2 separate regions of the Homo sapiens genome follow, and region 2 is linked to region 1. Evidence: fine-mapped expression QTL. A gene starts in region 1. The other region holds a variant in brackets. All regions are shown on one strand. Distances are between the middles of the regions.

Region 1 (8,856 bases):
TTGAGCCCAAGAGTTTGAGGCTGCAGTGAGCCAAGAGTGTGCCATGGGTGAGATCCCACCTCTGGAGAAAAAAAGAGAAATGAATCGGAAAAGTAGAGCCCCCTTTTATGTAATAAGGGCGGCTACTGCAACTTACTTTAGCTGTACCTGCACACCTGAGTGTGTACACTCTATCAGAGTACAAAACGTATTTCTTACTGCAGGTTGTGATGAAAAAATTGGAAAGCCACTAGGCTGCAGCGTCCTGGCTTTCCTCCGTGCCAGGACCCTCTTTACTCTGTAGTTCTCCTCTCCAGGCAAGCTGGCCTACCTTTCTCAGAACAAAAACACGAACGGGGGCTAACGTCTGTGCAGCGATGTTTACACAGATGATCTCATTTACCCTGTGAGGGTTGAGGGGCGTCTGGAGGACTGTGTGATCTTGGGTAAACGGCTCAACCTCTCTGGGCTTCAGTTCCTTCCTAGGTGAAGCTGGCTGTGTTGAGGATGCAGTGAGGCTTTGTGCACAGCGAGTGTGAGATGAAAGCGATCATCAGCTCCACTGAACAGACAGAGGAACCAAGTGACTGACGAGCCCTTCGGCAACAGTGAGGGTGCTGGGAGGGTTCAATTCAAGCTGCTGCACAGAGGCTTCCAGATACGCCCTGCAGCCCCCAGCACCACCGCACCACAACAGCTAACACGCACTCAGCACGCACCGCACACCGCGCACCGTTCTAAGTCCTTCGAGTTCATTTCCTCATTTTATCTTCACAAGAGTCCGAAGGGCTGCGGACTGTTCTTCATTCTGAGATGAAGACACTGAGGCTCACGCTTAACCCCCTGCTCCAGGTCACTTAGCTCTTAGTGGTGAAACCAAGGGTGTGGCCCTACAGCCCGAATCCCTGTGCCCTGGGAAAGCCGGTTCTATGGCCAGACCTGCCCCATCCTTACCTCCTAGCCCCATCCTCGATGGTCTCTCCTTCTTGCACTTTGCCCCCAAAGCCATTCCACCGGCCGGCCCCGAAGCCTCGCTTTTTCATGCCCAGGAGAACTCGCTGAGGCTGCAGGACCAGCACCAGGGTATAGAGCCTGGAGGCGCCCATGGTCCCTGGGTTCTGAAAGGAAGGTGAGAGGGCAGAGTCAGCCATGACGTGCGTGGAGGAAGCACGTGCCAGGGGCCAGGAGGAAGGGGACGTGCTCTGGGAGGCAGTGGGGGGCGGGGGGGTATGCTGTAACTCCCCAGCCCTGCCACGTGTGGCTTCCCTTGTGGCAGGTGGAAAACTGCCATTGAACCAGTGATTTTCTGGGGTAGAAACAGAACCCAGTGGTCAGCAGGGCTGATCAAGCAGAGCAGAGGCCGGCGCTACCTTCCTTCTCCACAAGTCAGTACTCAGGTGCAGAGGACAACATCACCTTTCCAGAGCGTGCTCTTGCTCCTGCGTCTACCCCCAGGAACCCCCTGCTTATAGGCACACAGTGAGGAACAACAGTCCCCGTGCCTGATTGGCACCAAAATAACCACGCAGTTTATCCTGTGGTCCTCAGGTCAGGCCTTTGGATTAACAGGAACTTCTTTCAGTCTAGTGGGACCTGGCCTCTCTGTAGCAGGCTTCCAGATTCCCAGGAAATGTGTGGCTGTAGACACAGGTCCACCCAGCCAGGCCCGGCTAGTCCTCCCTCCTGTGATAGGAGTTTATACCCCACCCACTCTGCTCCTGCTGTGGCTACTGTGGGACCTGGCACCCAGGGGGGCCACTGGAAGTCACAAGGGTCCTTCCTGCTCCCATAGGTGTGCAGGTCCAGGTCCAGAGGACTCTGAGGGCGATGCCTCCGCCAGGTCCCTGCTGAAAAAAGGACCCTGGAGAAATGCTGGAGGGCCAGGACCAACTTTCCTTTATTTATTTTGAGACAAGATCCTGCTCTGTTGCCCAGGCTGGAGGAGAGTGGCGTGATCGCGGTTCACTGTAACCTCCGCCTCCCTGGCTGAAGCCATCCTCCTGCCTCAGCATCCCACATAGCTGGGACCACAGGCATGAGCCGCCACACCCAGCTAATTTCTGTATTTTTAGTAGAGATGGGGTTTTGTCACGTTGCCCAGGCTGGTCACGAACTCCTGAGCTCAAGCGATCCACCCACCTCAGCCTCCCAAAGTGCTGAGATTACAGGCGTGAGCCACTGCGCCCAGCCAGGACCAACTTTTCTGGGGTCCACACCTGGACAAGACACAGGGTTCAGGACCAGTGATCCTTCTTGGAAGTTGTGGTGTCTGAGAAAAGGGACCAGATGATAAGGAAGGGGGCAGGGAAGTGCTGGGTAGAGGAGGGCGTGGTCTCTGGCCAGGGCTCCACACCCAGGCCTGTGCCCAGGGACCTGGGTGAGGACAGGCATTTCTGTTTTTTTGCCCAAATGTTGCATTTCCCGAGCCCGCCACGTCCCCGTCCTGTGCCTATAAAAAAACCCCAGTGGTTTTTTATAGTGGGCAGAGACACAAGCCGCTGGACGTCAAGAGGACGTGGAAAGCACACCAACAGGCACCAGCAGGCCATCAACTGATGGAACCATGAGTTTGGCAGGGGCGGTCAGAGGAGAGCCCAGGCTGCTCAGCAGCCCGACTCCAGGGGAAAATCACCTTCCCACTCCAACTGCCTTCTGGCTCCCCCATCTGCTGAGGGCTAATTCCACTCATAAAACCTTGCACTCACTCTCCAAGCCGCCGTGTGATCTGATTGCTCCAGTACATCAAGGCAAGAAACCTAGGGATACAGAAAGCCCTCTGTCCTTGCGATAAGGCAGGGAGTCTAACAGCTGACTAACACAAGCCACCTACAAGGCTAAACTGAAAGAGCACCCTCTAACACATGCCTGCTGGGGCTTCAGGAGCTGCAAACATTCACCCCTAGACACTGCCGTGGGGTGGGAGCCCCTCAGCCTGCCTGTCTGTATGTTCCCCTAGAGGCTTGAGAAGCGGGGCACTGAAGAAGTGAGCCACATCCTCATCGCACGCCCTTCGAGGAGGACAAGGGAACCTTTCCCATTTCACTGAGACTGGGTCCTGGTGGCGGAGGCAGGTCAGACAGGGTAAATGGGTTTGTGGCTTAGTTTCACACCAGGCCCGTGTACTTTGTCCCGACACTGATCTGTTTCTGCCAGAAGCCACGGTTTCCAAAGTAAATTTTTGTGATTTACTCCTGGTCTCCCCCAAGCCTCCGCCCCGCTCTCCTTGTCTCTCTCCCAAACCCCCGGCCCCGCTCTCCTCGTCTCCCTCGAGCCCCCGACCCTGCTCTTCTGGTCTCCTTCGAGCTCCCGGCCCCGCTCTCCCCCAAGCCCATGGCTCAGCTCCCCTAGTCTCCTGCCGCCCGCTGGCCCGGCTCCCCTCCCTGGTCACCACGACTCCTGGAATCCCCGCGCGCGCTTTTCGTACCTGCACCGCCGCTTCCGGGGGCGTGGCCTCTGACCGGAAGTGAGGCCAGGCACTTCCGGCGGCGCGCTGCAGGCGCGGGGAACACCAATGGCGGGGTGAGCTGGGCGCTGCTGCTGCGCGTGCAGACAGCGGGAGTGGTTGGGGGTCCGCCCGGTCGCCTTCCTCGGTCCTGGCCTCGGGGCTGGGTGCCGAGCGCTGGGCACCGTCCCCGCACTCAGCGAGCGCGACAGGGGCGAGGCCAGGATTCCGGGTCGCAGTTCCCCGGGAGGAGGGCGCCCTCAGGTCTCCAGGGGCAGGGCCGGCGGGGCCGTGGGGAGGCCGGGGCCGGCGGCGGAGTCCAGGTGGGGGGCGCAGCGCCGGGGCCCAGATCCAAGGCGCCGGGGGCGAGCCCGGGGCGGGATTTCGCTTCTGGGCCGGGTAGCTCCATTGCCCGCGCTTCCTGGGCTGTCGAGTGGGCCCTGGCCCCCGGGACCGGCTTGTGCCATTTTCCCGGGAGACCCCTTAAGCGAGGGGAAGACAGCGACTCACGGTCAGCAGTCAGTGCCTCCTGGCTTGTCAGCACGCTTTGGTGTTGCAGAAGCTAGAAGCTTTGGCCTTGGAGCCATGAGGGTGGTAACTTTTATTTATTTATTTAAATCAGAAAGATGGACATAGAGACCGGGCTTGGTGGCCCACACCTGTCATCCCAGCACTTTGGAAGTCTGAGGCAGGAGGATCGTTTGAGCCTAGGAGTTCGAGACCAGCCTAGGCAATGTAGTGAGATGCCATCTCTAAAAAAGGTTTTTAAGAATTAAAAAAAAAAAAAAAATTAGCCCAGGCATGGTGGTGCACACCTGTAGTCCCAGCTACTCAGGAGGCTGAGGTGGGAGGTTCACTTGAGACCCAGAGGTTATGGCAGCAATCAGCTGTGATTGTGCCACTGCAACTCCAGCCTGGATGATAGCAAAACAAAAATGGCCGGGTGAGGTGGTTCACGCCTGTAATCCCAGCACTTTGGGAGGCCAAGGTGGGCTGATCGCCAGAGGTCAGGAGTTCGAGACCAGCTCGGCCAACATGGTGAAATCCCATCTCTACTGAAAATAGAAAAATTAGCCGGAAGTGGTGGCACACACCTGTAGTCTCAGCTACTCAGGAGGCTGAGGTGGGAGGTTCACTTGAGCCCCAGAGGCTGTGGCTGCAGTCAGCTGTGATCATGCCACTGCACTCCAGCCTGGGTAATAGTAAAACCCTGTCTCTAAAAAAACAAAAAGAAGAAAGAAATGCCTGGGTGCAGTGGCTTACACCTGTAATCCCAGCACTTTGGGAGGCCAAGGCGGGCAGATCAGCGGAGGTCAGGAGTTTGAGACCAGCCTGGCCAACATGGTGGAACCCATCTATACTGAAAATACAAACATTAGCCGGACATGGTAGCAGGTGTGCCTGTAATCCCAGCTACTTGGGAGGCTGGGGCAGGAGAATTGCTTGAACCCGGGAGTCGGAGGCTGCAGTGAGCTGTCACTGCACTCCAGCCTGGGCGCCAGAGTGAGACTCCGTCTTAAAAAAAGAAAAAGAGGACATAGAACTTCCTTGGTGAGGTTGTTGTCAGAGTTAAACAAGGGGAGGTGTGTATAGCTTCCACCTGCTTAGCTATTGTGGGCTGTGAATAAATTGTTACATTTATTGTAACAATTGTCTAGAGAATCTTGGAAATTGTCCTTCAACGATTGACACAGGTTTAGTTCAATTTTATTTAAGACATGTAGGTGAGAGGATTGTTTGAGCCCAGGAGTTCGAATCTGCGTTGAACCGTGACCTCACCACTGCACTCCAGCCTGGGCTATAGAGCGAGACCCTGTCTCGAAAAAAAGAAGAAAAAAAGAAATGTGACAGGCCAGACCCTCTGTACTAGCTGTCAAAGCCCTGGAACTAGGTCACTAAGGCAAGGATCTGTCCTTATGAGGTTTTCTTGCAGCCTGTCAGAGCCCAATGAACATTTTTGCCAGATGAGAAAATAATATTACTTTAATTAATTAATTGATGTATTTAGTTATTGTTTGAGACAGAGTCTCGCTCTGTCGCCCAGGCTGGAGTGCAGTGGCGCAATCTCGGCTCACTGCAACCTCTGCCTCCTGGGTTCAGGCGATTCTCCTGCTTCAGCCTCCCGAGTAGCTGGGTTTATAGGCATCTGCCACCACGCCAGGCTAATTTTTGCATTTTAGTAGAGACGGGGTTTCATCATGTTGGCCACGGTTGGCCAGGCTGGTCTCGAAATCCTGACCTCAGGGGATCCACCTGTCTTGGCCTCCAAAAGTGCTGGAATTACAGGTGTCTCCGAATACCCCCATATTCTGAGGTACCAAGGGTTAGGACATCAACACATTAATTTTGCGGGGACACAGTTTGGCCTGTGATGCCTGCTTTCCATCTGTGTAGCCTTATCAGTTCACCTCCCCTCCTGGGCCTTGGTGCCCCATCTCTAGAAATGAATGAGTTGATCCGAGGGCCCTCCCAGCTCATGACCTGCCGTTCTGTGTGATGCCAACCTGCCTGCTCCTCTTCTCTCCCACCAGGTACTTGAAGCTGGTGTGTGTTTCCTTTCAGCGTCAAGGGTTCCACACTGTTGGGAGTCGCTGCAAGAATCGGACAGGCGCTGAGCACCTGTGGCTGACCCGACATCTCAGGGACCCATTTGTGAAGGCTGCGAAGGTGGAGAGTTACCGGTGTCGAAGCGCCTTCAAGCTCCTGGAGGTGAACGAGAGGCACCAGATTCTGCGGCCCGGCCTTCGGGTGTTAGACTGTGGGGCAGCTCCTGGGGCCTGGAGTCAGGTGGCGGTGCAGAAGGTCAACGCCGCAGGCACAGGTGGGCCTCTGCACTGCTGTTGGCACCTTCTGGCTCCCCTGAGGCTGAGTGGGCATGGGCAAGCTGCCTTTGCCAGTGGATGCGGGATGGTGGAGCCCTTTTTTGAAGGCGTGTGCTTCCGAGTGGGTGGTTTAGCAATGGTGATGATAAAAATAGGATGCTGCCATTTTCAAAATGAAAGACAAGGTAGAAAGGTGCAGTGAACATGGAAATCACCTCGCATGAGACCGCCCGCAGGTACCAGCACCAGCATGGTGGTGTGCATCCTTCCAGGCTTGTGCATGCATAGATCCCTCACATTTTCAAAAGCGATGTTGTGCCATACTTTTCTTGCTAATTTGCAGCCTATTGGAGCTATTTTTGCTTAATGATACATACATATATGTATTATATATATATATATATATATATATATATATATATATATATATATATATATAATTATTATTGTTATTATTTTTGTTCTTCCCCCCCCTCCAGATGGAGTCTCACTCTTGCCCAGGCTGCAGTGCAATGGTGTGATCTCGGCTCACTGCAACCTCTGCCTACCTGGTTCAAGCGATTCTCCTGCCTCAGCCTCCCAAGTAGCTGGGATTACAGGCGCCCGCCACCGCACCCAGCTAATTTTTTCTTTTTGTTTTTTTAAGTAGAGATAGGGTTTCACTATGTTGGCTAGGCTGATCTCGAACTCTTGACCTCAGGTGATCTGCCCACCTCGGCCTCCCAAAGTGCTGGGATTACAGATGTGAGCCATGGTGCCCGGCTACTCTTAATGATGTATTGACATCTTTCCCCAACAGCACAGCTAAATTTCCAAGTCGCATAAGCCCTGGGGCTTTCCTGGTGGCCCCACTGGGGCTGCTCCGTCCGGAACCTAGAAGAGGCTTCATGGCCAGGGCTATGGATTCTTTGCTCTGGATGAAGCTGAGACACAGTTTTCATCTGTTTTGTATCTTAGGGTTTTGAGTAAGATTTTCTATATAAAAAGGTTCTCCTGAATAATGAGATCAGCCAACCGCCCATGCAACTGAAGACACTGTCGTCATTGGGAAAGTTTCATCCTATTCCATGTAGTGCTTGCACCGTAGGTTCTTTAACCAGCTCCCTCACTGTGGCATCAAGGTTGCTTTTGGCTTTTGGCTGGGATGCGTGTGCTGTGGTGAATATCCTTGCCATTTATGTTTCCTGCTGTAAAGCCAGGGTAGCTGCATGCACTGGCATTTGAACAGGGTGAGACAGTCCACCCAGAGCTCTCCCAAGTCTCTCCCAAATACCTTAGAGTAGGGACACTGGTCCCCATTTATTGGTGAGAAAACAGGCTCAGGGTTTCATGACTTGTTGAAAGTGCAGAAATGGAATGCTGGCCCCCTGGATCTGCACATCTGCCTCGCTGCTGGTTTGCGGTAGGTTTGCCATGAACTCTTGGTGTCTACCTGCATCCCCTTGGGTGGCCCCTGCCCATACTTAGGCGGGGATATGCCTCTTCGGGCTTTTCAACAGCATTTTTTTTTTTTTTTTTTTTTTTTGTTTATAGAGCCTCACTCTGTTGCCCAGGCTGGAGTGCAATGGCGCCATCTCGGCTCACTGTAATCTTTGCCTCCTGTGTTTAAGTGATTTCCGGCTAATTTTTGTATGTTTAGTAGAGATGAGGTTTTGCCATGTTGGCCAGGCTGGTCTCGAACTCCAGGCCTCAGGTGATCCGCCCGCCTCTGCCTCCCAGCATCCTCGAGGTGCTTCCTGGTGCTTCCATCGTGGTCAGCCTGAAAGCCTTTTTATTGTTTTTCAGCTCAACATTTATTGACTAAATAAGTGAATTTGTGTTGGAAATGTCAGTTCCTTTTCTCATTGCTGAGCTTATCACCGTGGAGTCCTCCTAGTAACTGATTTCAGTGGTTTCTGTTCCCCTAAGTGCTCTTGAGATGAAGCAGGAGAGTGGCCCAGCGTGCCTTGTAGGAGGAAGTGACAGAAGGAGAGAGCGTGAGCGTGATCTGCCTGGGCTTGTCCTCCCGGAAGTCACAAGCATGCAGCCAAAGCTGTTTGCCTTCGGTGGAAATTTCCGAAGGTTGTAACATACTGGATATTATAGGAGTGAAAGCTCAGGAGCATAAAGTGAGGCGTGAGGCCGGGCGCAGTGGCTCACACCTGTAATCCCAGTACTTTGGGAGGCCAAGGGGAGGATCACCTGAGGTCAGGAGTTCGAGACCAGCCTGGGCAATATGGTGAAACCCCCGTCTCTACAAAAAATTAGCCAGGTGTGGTGGCATGTTCCTGTGGTCCTAGCTCCTTGGGAAGCTGAGGTGGCAGGGGTCGCTCGAACCTGGGGAAGTCAAGGCTGCAGTGAGCTGAGGCCGTGCAACGGAGTGAGGCCTTGTCTCACACACACACACACAAAGACACACAAAGATAACTTGCTGATATTTGAGTAACACCAGTTTGCTAAAACTAAAAAGATGCCTTTGTGTCACCTTACGTAAAACAAGACTTGTTGCCTATAACTGATCTCAGCATCTGCCTCCCCCTCTTCTCACTCTGTACCTACATTCAAAGCCCCCTCTTCACAAGCCCAACGCCCCCATCTCCCCAACAGTCCCCTCCACTGAGGAGGGCCGTAGTT
Region 2 (8,856 bases), 460 kb after region 1:
CGGCAGGGAAACTGTCTTAACCTTAGTACCAGGCAAGTTTATTTCTTAAATCCCGAGAGAATGTGCAGCACTGACCAGCCCTGCCACGGGCTTGGCTCCTAAATCTTCTGCTCTTTGCATGACCCCAAAATGACAAGGTGAGAATTGTAATTAATTTTATTTATTTATTTTTTGGAGATGGAGTCTCGCTTTATCACCCCGGCTGGAGTGCAGTGGTGCAATCTTGGCTCACTGCAACCTCTGCCTCCCAGGTTCAAGCAATTCTCCTGCCTCAGCCTCCTGAGTAGCTGGGATTACAGGTGCCCGCCGCCATACCCAGCTAATTTTTATATTTTTAGTAGAGATGGGGTTTCACCATGTTGGCCGGGCTGGTCTTGAACTCCTGACCTCAGGTGATCTGCCTGCCTCGGCCTCCCAAAATGTTGGGATTACAGGCGTGAGCCACCGTGCCCAACTGAGAATTGTAATTTAATGTGGATTTGTAGTGCCTCAGGAACCTGCCCAAAACAAACACATTTTCCTCTGGAGGAATATGCCTCAACCCAGGCCTTAGAGAATGTCCAAGGTCAAGTTCAAATATATATTTACATATAATATGTACAATAATATGATTTTAATAAAAAAACTACCAGAAAGCAAGACACCATGTAAAAGATCAGCCCAAATAACAAATAGAACTTGGCCCAGAAAGACCTGGGATATTGGTCTTAATGAAAACAGCATATAAAACACAACGTTTAATATTTTTAAAGACCTGAAATAGGGAAATGAAAACATAGTAAGAGAATTTAAAAACTAGGAAAGAAACAAAGTAAAACAAATATAGTCATGAATAAATCTTAAATCACTGGGAAGATTAGACAGCAGATAAATACAGCTAAACAGAGAATTAGAAAATTGGGGCCGGGTACAGTGGCTCACACCTGTAATCCCAGCACTTTGGGAAGTCGAGGCAGGTGGATCACCTGAGATCAGGAGGTAGAGATCAGCCTGGCCAACATGGCAAAACGTTGTCACTACTAAAAATATAAAAATTAGCCAGACATGGTGGCACATATCTGTAATCCCAGCTACTTCGAAGGTTGAGGCAGGAGAATCACTTGAACCCGGGAGATGGAGGTTGAGATTGAGCTGAGATTGAGCCACTGCACTCCAGCCTGGGCAACAGAGTGAGACTCTGTCTCGAAAAAAAAAAAAAAAAAAAAAAGAAAAAGAAAAAGAAAAAGAAAAAATTGGCAGACTAGAAGGTAGACCTGCGGAAAATCCACAGACTGCAGCACAAGGGCTGAACACAGACTGACACAGCTGAAGGGAGAATTAGTAGACTGGAAGTTGATATTACAGGGAATGTAGCACCAAGAAAATCAGAGGTGAAAAGACAGGCTCTGAGACACAGAAGGTCAGGGGAGAAGGTCCGGCACAGGGCTAATTGGTGCTGCAGAAAGAAATTCTGCACAGAATAGGAGAGAAGCACTGTCAGGAGGGATAATGGCAAAGGATTTCCTAGAATGAATGAAAGACATAGTCTTTCAGATAAGGAAACCCAGATGAATCCAAGCAGGAAGAGTAGAAATCCATTCAGAGGTGCCTCATAGTGGAACTGCAGAACATGACACACAGGGCTTAAAAGCTGCACCAGAGAACATACAGGTCACCCATACACTACAACAAACAGACCACCTACGACTTCCTATCACACATAAAAGAAGCAAAAAAGGAACAGGAACAACTATCTTCCAAGTTTAGACAGAAAAAAACTGTTAAAGAAAAGCTCTAAAATTGTATGCCCACGGCCAGGCGTGGTGGCTCATGCCTATAATCCCAGCCGAGGCAGGTGGATCACCTGAGGTCAGGAGTTCGAGACCAGCCTGGCCAACATGGTGAAACCCCATCTCTACTAAAAATACAAAATATTAGTTGGGTGTAGTGGCAGGTGCCTGTAGTCCCAGCTACTCAGGAGGCTGAGGCAGGAGAATTGCTTGAACCTGAGAGGTGGAGGTTGCAGTGAGCCGCGACTGCACCACTGCCCTCTAGCCTGGGTGACAGAGCAAGACTCTGTCTCAAAAAAATAAAAATAAAATAATAAATAATAAAAATAAAAAACAAAAAAGACACTCCTAAAATGTTAGTACAGGGATTGGTTGAAAAAAGAACGAAAAAATACAGTACAGGGATTGGTTGAATGAAAAAATACAGTACAGAGATTGGTTGAATGAAAAAATATGGTACAGGGATTGGTTGAAAAAAGAATGAAAAATATTCTTTTTTTTTTGGAGACTGAAATACAGTACAGGATTGGTTGAAAAACACAGTACAGGGATTGGTTGAAAAATACAGTACAGGGATTGGTTGAATGAAAAAATACAGTACAGGGATTGGTTGAAAAAATACAGTACAGGGATTGGTTGAATGAAAAAATACAGTACAGGGATTGGTTGAAAAAAGAATGAAAATATTCTTTTTTTTGTGTGAGACTGAAATACAGTACAGGATTGGTTGAAAAACACAGTACAGGGATTGGTTGAAAAATACAGTACAGGGATTGGGTGAATGAAAAAATACAGTACAGGGATTGGTTGAAAAAAGAATGAAAAATATTCTTTTTGTTTTTGTTTTTTTTTTTTTTTTGGAGACGGAGTTTGCTCTTGTTGCCTAGTCTGGAGTGCAGTGGCACAATCTCGGCTCACTGCAACCTCCACCCCCGGGTTCAAGTGATTCTCCTGCCTCAGCCTCCCGAGTCACTAGGATTACCGGCATGCACCACCAAGCCCGGCTAATTTTGTATTTTTAGTAGAGACGGGGTTTCTCCACGTTGGTCAGGCTGGTCTCGAACTCCCAACCTCATCAGGTGATCCACCCACCTCGGCCTCCCAAAGTGCTGGGATTACAGGCGTGAGCCACTGTGCCCAGCCAGGAAAATAATATTCTGATCAAAATGCAAAAAGCATTGCCAGGGATAAAGAGGTCACAATATGGCGCTGACTCAGGAGAACTACAGAAGAATTCTGAACGTGTATGTACCTATTAGGGTAACTTTAAATTTTATAAAGAAAGCAAATTACACAAGAAATGGCTACAAGAAGAAACTGATCAATCCAGCAGCACACAGGGAGATTTTAACACGCCTCCTTCAGTAATTGATAGAACAAGCAAATAAAAATCAGTAAGGATTTAGAAGATCTGAGCGACAAAGTAACAAACTTGATCCGCAAGATATTTATAGGATTCTGTATACAATAACCGGAGAATATGCTTTCTTCTCCAGGGCCCAAGAAACATTATAGAACTGACTACATATTCAGCCATCAATCAAACCTAAATAGACCTGGAAGGACTGGTACCATAGTAACAGCATTCTCTGAGCACAACGCCAAGTAGTTTAGAAGTCAATAACAATGAAAGAAACCTAAAGCCTAAAAATCTTAATAAATCTAGAAATTTAAAAACATATTTCTAATTACCCACGGGTAAAAAAGTCTCATAATGGAAATTCAGAAATACTTAAGACTAAATAGTGAAAATACCAAAAATGATCATGAATTGTAACACCATATGGTGATAAGTACTTTGTAGTCATAAACGCATATATTAGAAGAAAATCCCCTAAAAATTAATAAGTACCCAACTTAAAAAGTTAGAACAGGAAAATAATTCCAAAGAAAATGAAAGGAAGATAATAAAGGCAACCAGAAATTAATAAAATAGAAAATAAAAATACAATGGGGAGGAATTATAGAGTTGATTTTTTGGAAGAACTAATATAGCTGAACTAAACCTCTAGCAAGACTAATCAATTTTTTTAAAAAATAGAAAACACAAGAACTATTGGGATAGAGAAAATGAACATTACTACACAGGAGAGTAGAGGCTGAAAAGTTAATAAGGGAATATTATGGGCTGGGCGCAGTGGCTCACGCCTGTAATCCCAGCACTTTGGGAGGCTGAGCGGGGGGGGGGGGGGGCAGATCACCAGAGGTCAGGAGTTCGAGACCAGCCTGACCCATATGGTGAAATCCTGTCTCTACTAAAAATATAAAAAATCAGCTGGGCGTGGTGTCAGGCACCTATAGTCCCAGCCACTCGGGAGGCTGAGGCAGGAGAATGGCATGAACTCAGGAGGTGGTGCTTGCAGTGAGCCGAGATCCCGCCACTGTACTCCAGCCTGGGCAACAGAGCAAGACTCTGTCTCAAAAAAAAAAAAAAAAAAAAAATTAGCTGGGCTTGGTGGCACTTGCCTGTAACCCCAGCTACTTGAGAGGCTGAGACAGGAGAATCACTTGAATCTGGGAGGTGGAGGTTGCAGTGAGCCGAGATTGCACCACTGCACTCCAGCCTGGGTGACACAGTGAGACTCCATCTGAAAAAAAAAAAAAAAGAAAAAGGGAATATTATGAACATCTTTTTGCAAATAAATTTGATAATTAGATGAAATGGACACATTCCCAGGAAAATACAAATTCCCAAAACAGACTCAGAAGAGACATCCTGAATCGCACTATAAACAACAACAAAGATTTAATCAGTATTTTAGAAATCTTCTCACAATACAAAAACGAGGCTCAGCTTGTTTTGTGAGCAAGTTCTAGCAAAGCATTCCAGGCACAGATGATTTCCATCTTATTCAAAGTCTTCCAGGAAAGACAGCCAAAGGGAGTGCTCCCGAGCAGATTCTCTGATGATTAGAAAATCCTTGTGCCCGATAGACAAGGGTGGTAAGAGAAGTGAAGTTAATGACACTCTCTTTAATAAGCATATACACAAAATCTCTGAAACAACAACAACAAAAATCAAACCATCTAGCAGTGATGTGGGACAGGCGAGCCCCAGAGTAGGGCTTAGCTGGTGAGGGTTCTTAGCTTCGCCTAGGACAGACTACAAGGGAAAGCTGGCAGTGGGGTAGAATGAGGCAGCTTTACTGAGGTGGCGGGGTTACAGCCCCATGGCTGTTCCCACAGGGCAGGGCCACCCCGCGGGCAGTGTGTCCAGAGTAACAACTTGGGAGGAGTTCTGCAATCATACCTACACCCACTTTCTTTCTTTCTTTTTTTTTTTTTGAGACAGAGTCTCGCTCTGTCACCCAGGCTGGAGTGCAGTGGTGCTATCTTGGCTCACTGCAACCT[C/T]CACCTCCTGGGTTCAAGCGATTCTCCTGCCTCACCCTCCCGAGTAGCCGGGATTACAGGTGCCCGCCACCACACCCGGCTAATTTTTGTATTTTTAGTGGAGACAGGGTTTCACCATGTTGGCCAGGCTGGTGCCAAACTCCTGACCTCAAGTGATCCGCCCTCCTTGTCCTCCCAAAGTGCTGGGATTACAGCTGTGAGCCACTACGCCCAAACTTCACTTTCAAATATACGTAAGTTAAAGGGCAAGTTATTTAGAAATTTCTAGAAAAGGGATGATAACTTCCAGGTCACTGCCATGAAAAGGGGTGGTAACTTTCGGGTGTTGCCATGGCAATGCTAAACTGTTGCGGCGCTGGTGGGCCTGTCTTAGGGAGAAGAGCTTTCAGTGCCTCTTCTGTGTTTTAGCTAGTCTTCAATCAGGTCTGGAGTTGACTCCCACCTCCTACCTCAATAGTGTTATATGTACCGTCAAGCAATGCTCAACCCTGGGGATACATTCTGAGACATGCGTAGAATATTATATGCATATTGCTATAATGTTATAGCACCATATCTGTTTGTCTGCACGCATGTTGTTGGACGATTTCGTCACGTGTAAGTGACCTTCCACAGATCCAGTAGTGTACTCTAAGATGGCAGAGCCTACCCCATGGCCAGGCTGTACGGTGTGGCCTGTGGCTCCTGGGCTCCAGGGCTCCAAATGTGCACAGCAGGTGACAGCACTGAACGCTGCAGGCAACTGCAGCACAATACTGTATGTCTGTATGTCTCAACACATCTAAACACAGAGAAGGTGCCGTGAAAACACAGGATCAGTGACTTTAAAGTGGCGTACCTGATATGGCACTTAGCACGAACGGAGCTTGCGGGAGTGGAAGTTGCTCTGGGTGAGTCGGTGAGAGAGGGTGAGTGAGTGTGAAGGCCTGGGACGTTACTGTGCACCACTGGAGACTATTTTTTTGAGACAGGGTCTCGCTCTGTCGCCTAGGCTGGAGTGTAGTGGCACCATCTCGGCTCACTGCAACCTCTATTTCCCAGGTTCAAGCGATTCTTCTGCCTCAGCCTCCTGAGTAGCTGGGACTACAGGCGTGCACCATCAAACCCTGCTAATTTTTGTATTTTTAGTAGAGATGGGGTTTTGCCATGTTGGCCAAGCTGGTCTCGAACTCCTGACTTCTTGTGATCCAACTGCCTCGGCCTCCCAAAATGCTGGGATTATAGGTGTGAGCCACCCTTCCTGGCCTACTGAAGACTTTATAAACACTGTATACTTAAGCTATACTCTGTTTATTAAAAATATTTTTTCTTCAATAATAAAGTAACCTTAGCTTACTGTTACTTTGTAAACTTTAAAAAAATTTTTACTTTTTGGTAATACTTAGCTTAAAACACAAACACGTTGTACAGCTGTACAAAAATATTTTCTTTCTTTATTTTGTAAGTAAGTTTTTTTCTATTAAGGTTGGTGCAAAAATAATACCATTACTTTTTAATCCCATTACTTTTAATGGCAAAAACTGCAATTACTTTTGCACCAACCTAGTATTTTTGAAACTTTTTTCTACCTTTTTTTTTTTTTTTTTTTTTTGATGGAGTCTCGCTGTGTCATCCAGGCTGGAGTGCAGTGGCACGATCTCAGCTCACTGCAACCTCCGCCTCCCAGGTTCAAGCAATTCTCCTGCCTCAGCCTCCTGGGAAGCTAGGATTACAGGCACATGCCACTATGCCTGGCTAATTTTTGTATTTTTAGTAGAGACGGGGTTTCACCATGTTGTCCAGGCTGGTCTTGAACTCCTGACCTCAGGTTATCCTCCTGCCTCGGCCTCCCAAAGTGCTGGGATTACAGGCATGACCCACTGTACCCTTTTTTCTACTTAAAAAATTTTTTGTTACAAACAGAAACACACATATTAGCCCAGTATTAGCCTAGGCCTACACGGGGTCAGGATCGCCAATATCACTGACTTCCCCTCCATATCCTGTCCCAATGGAGGGCTTCAGCAATCCCTCCTGAAGGACCTGCCTGAGGCTGCTTTATAGTTACTTTGTTTTTGTTTTTAATCAGTAGTAGTATACTCTAAGATCATGATAAAAAAGTTGGCCGGGTGTGGCGGCTCACGCTTGTAATCCCAGCACTTTGGGAGGCCGAGGCGGGCGGATCATGAGGTCAGGAGATCGATACCATCCTGGCTAACACAGTGAAACCCCATCTCTACTAAAAACACAAAAGATTAGCAGGGCGCGGTGGCAGGCGCCTGTAGTCTCAGCTACTCGGGAGGCTGAGGCGGGAGAATAGCGTGAACCCGGGAGGCAGAGCTTGCAGTGAGCCGAGATCGCGCCACTGCACTCCAGCCTGGGCGACAGAGTGAGACTCCATCTCAAAAAAAAAAAAAAAAAAAAAAGTATAGGATAGTATATACATGAACTAGTGACACAGTGGTTTATCATCATTTGCAAGTACTGTGCACTGGACGTAATTGTATGTGCTAGACTTTCCTATGACTGGTGGTGCAGAGGGCTTGTTTACCCCAGCATCACGGGTGCGTACACACACATACACACACGAGTAACGTACTGCACGGTGACGTGACGATGGCCACCACAGCACCAGGCGACAGGGAATCTTCAGATCCACTACAATCTCTCATGAGACCCCTGTCGGATGTGCAGTTAGTCACTGACCAAAATGTTTCTACGCGGCGCACGACTGTGTATACATTTGGTCATAATGCTTTTCTAAAAAACAGTGTCTCACTCTGTTGCCCAGGCTGGAGTGCAGTGACACAATCATAGCTCACTGCAGCCTTGAACTCCTGGGCTCAAGTGATCCTCCCACCTCAGCCTCCCAAGTAGCTGGGACTACAGGTGCATGCCACCACACCTGGCTAATTTTTTTTTATTTTTTGTAGAGATGGGATCTTGCTATGTTGCCCCCAGGCTGGTTTCAAACTCCTGGCCTCAAGCGATCCTCCCGCCTTGGCCTCCCAAAGTGCTGGGATTATAGGTGTGAGCCACTGTGCCTGGCCCATAATGTGCTTTATCTATATAATTTGGTTATAATGTGATAGCATGATCTCTTTATGTGTGTGCCTGTATCTGTAACACATTATGACCAAATCAAGTTTATCCCTGGATTGAAACGGTGCCTTAACATTAGGAAATACATTTATACATTCTCCATAGTAACAGAATAAGGAAGGAACATCTCTGGTCATCTCGCTAGCATAGGAAAAATGCTTTTTTAATTTTGTTTTTATTTTTTGAGACAAGGGCTCTCTGTGTCACCCAGGCTGGAGTGCAGTGGTGCAATCACAGCTCACTGCAGGCTTGACTTCCCAGGCTCAAGCGATCCTCCCTCCTCAGCTTCCCAAGTATCTGGAATCACAGGTGTGCAACCACCATGCTTGGCTAGTATTTTTTAAACTTTCACTGGAGACAGGGTCTCCAACGTCTGACTGGTCAGACAGTGTTGCTCAGGCTGGTCTCAAACTCCTGAACTAAAGTGATCCTCCTGCCTCGGCTTCCCAAAGTGCTACAATTATAGGCGTGAGGCACTGCACCTGGCCAGGAAAAACATTTAAAAAAACATAATATCTATGTATCCATAATAAAAATGCATAGCAAAGGGAAGACAACTTCCTTAACCCCAAACCTCAGCCACATGGTATAGCAGCGATGACTTCTGGAAGAACACACAGGATTTTCATGAAGCTTGATGAACTGATTCTAGAAT

Evidence for each region. PIP is the estimated chance that this variant, and not a neighbour inherited with it, causes the effect.
Region 2: its variant is the best candidate, but not a certain one, in a credible set for the expression of NUDT1 in whole blood (TOPMed, PIP 0.73).

Annotation. Positions count from the first base shown.
Region 1 is chr7:2,236,804-2,245,659 of GRCh38, reverse strand. It overlaps NUDT1 (nudix hydrolase 1), which reads right to left and starts at 3,434. Exons shown (of 4, transcript NM_002452.4): 1 at 3,404-3,434; 2 at 934-1,097. The coding sequence starts at 1,085. MRM2 (mitochondrial rRNA methyltransferase 2) reads left to right here and starts at 3,455. Exons shown (of 3, transcript NM_013393.3): 1 at 3,455-3,498; 2 at 5,953-6,242. The coding sequence starts at 3,491. RefSeq lists a silencer at 3,529-3,748 and enhancers at 4,071-4,922, 7,961-8,360, 7,646-8,845.
Region 2 is chr7:1,778,512-1,787,367 of GRCh38, reverse strand. No RefSeq gene overlaps it. Among named protein-coding and RNA genes, the nearest start is that of ELFN1-AS1, 41 kb to the right of the region's middle. The variant C/T (reference allele first, on the strand shown) is at 5,121.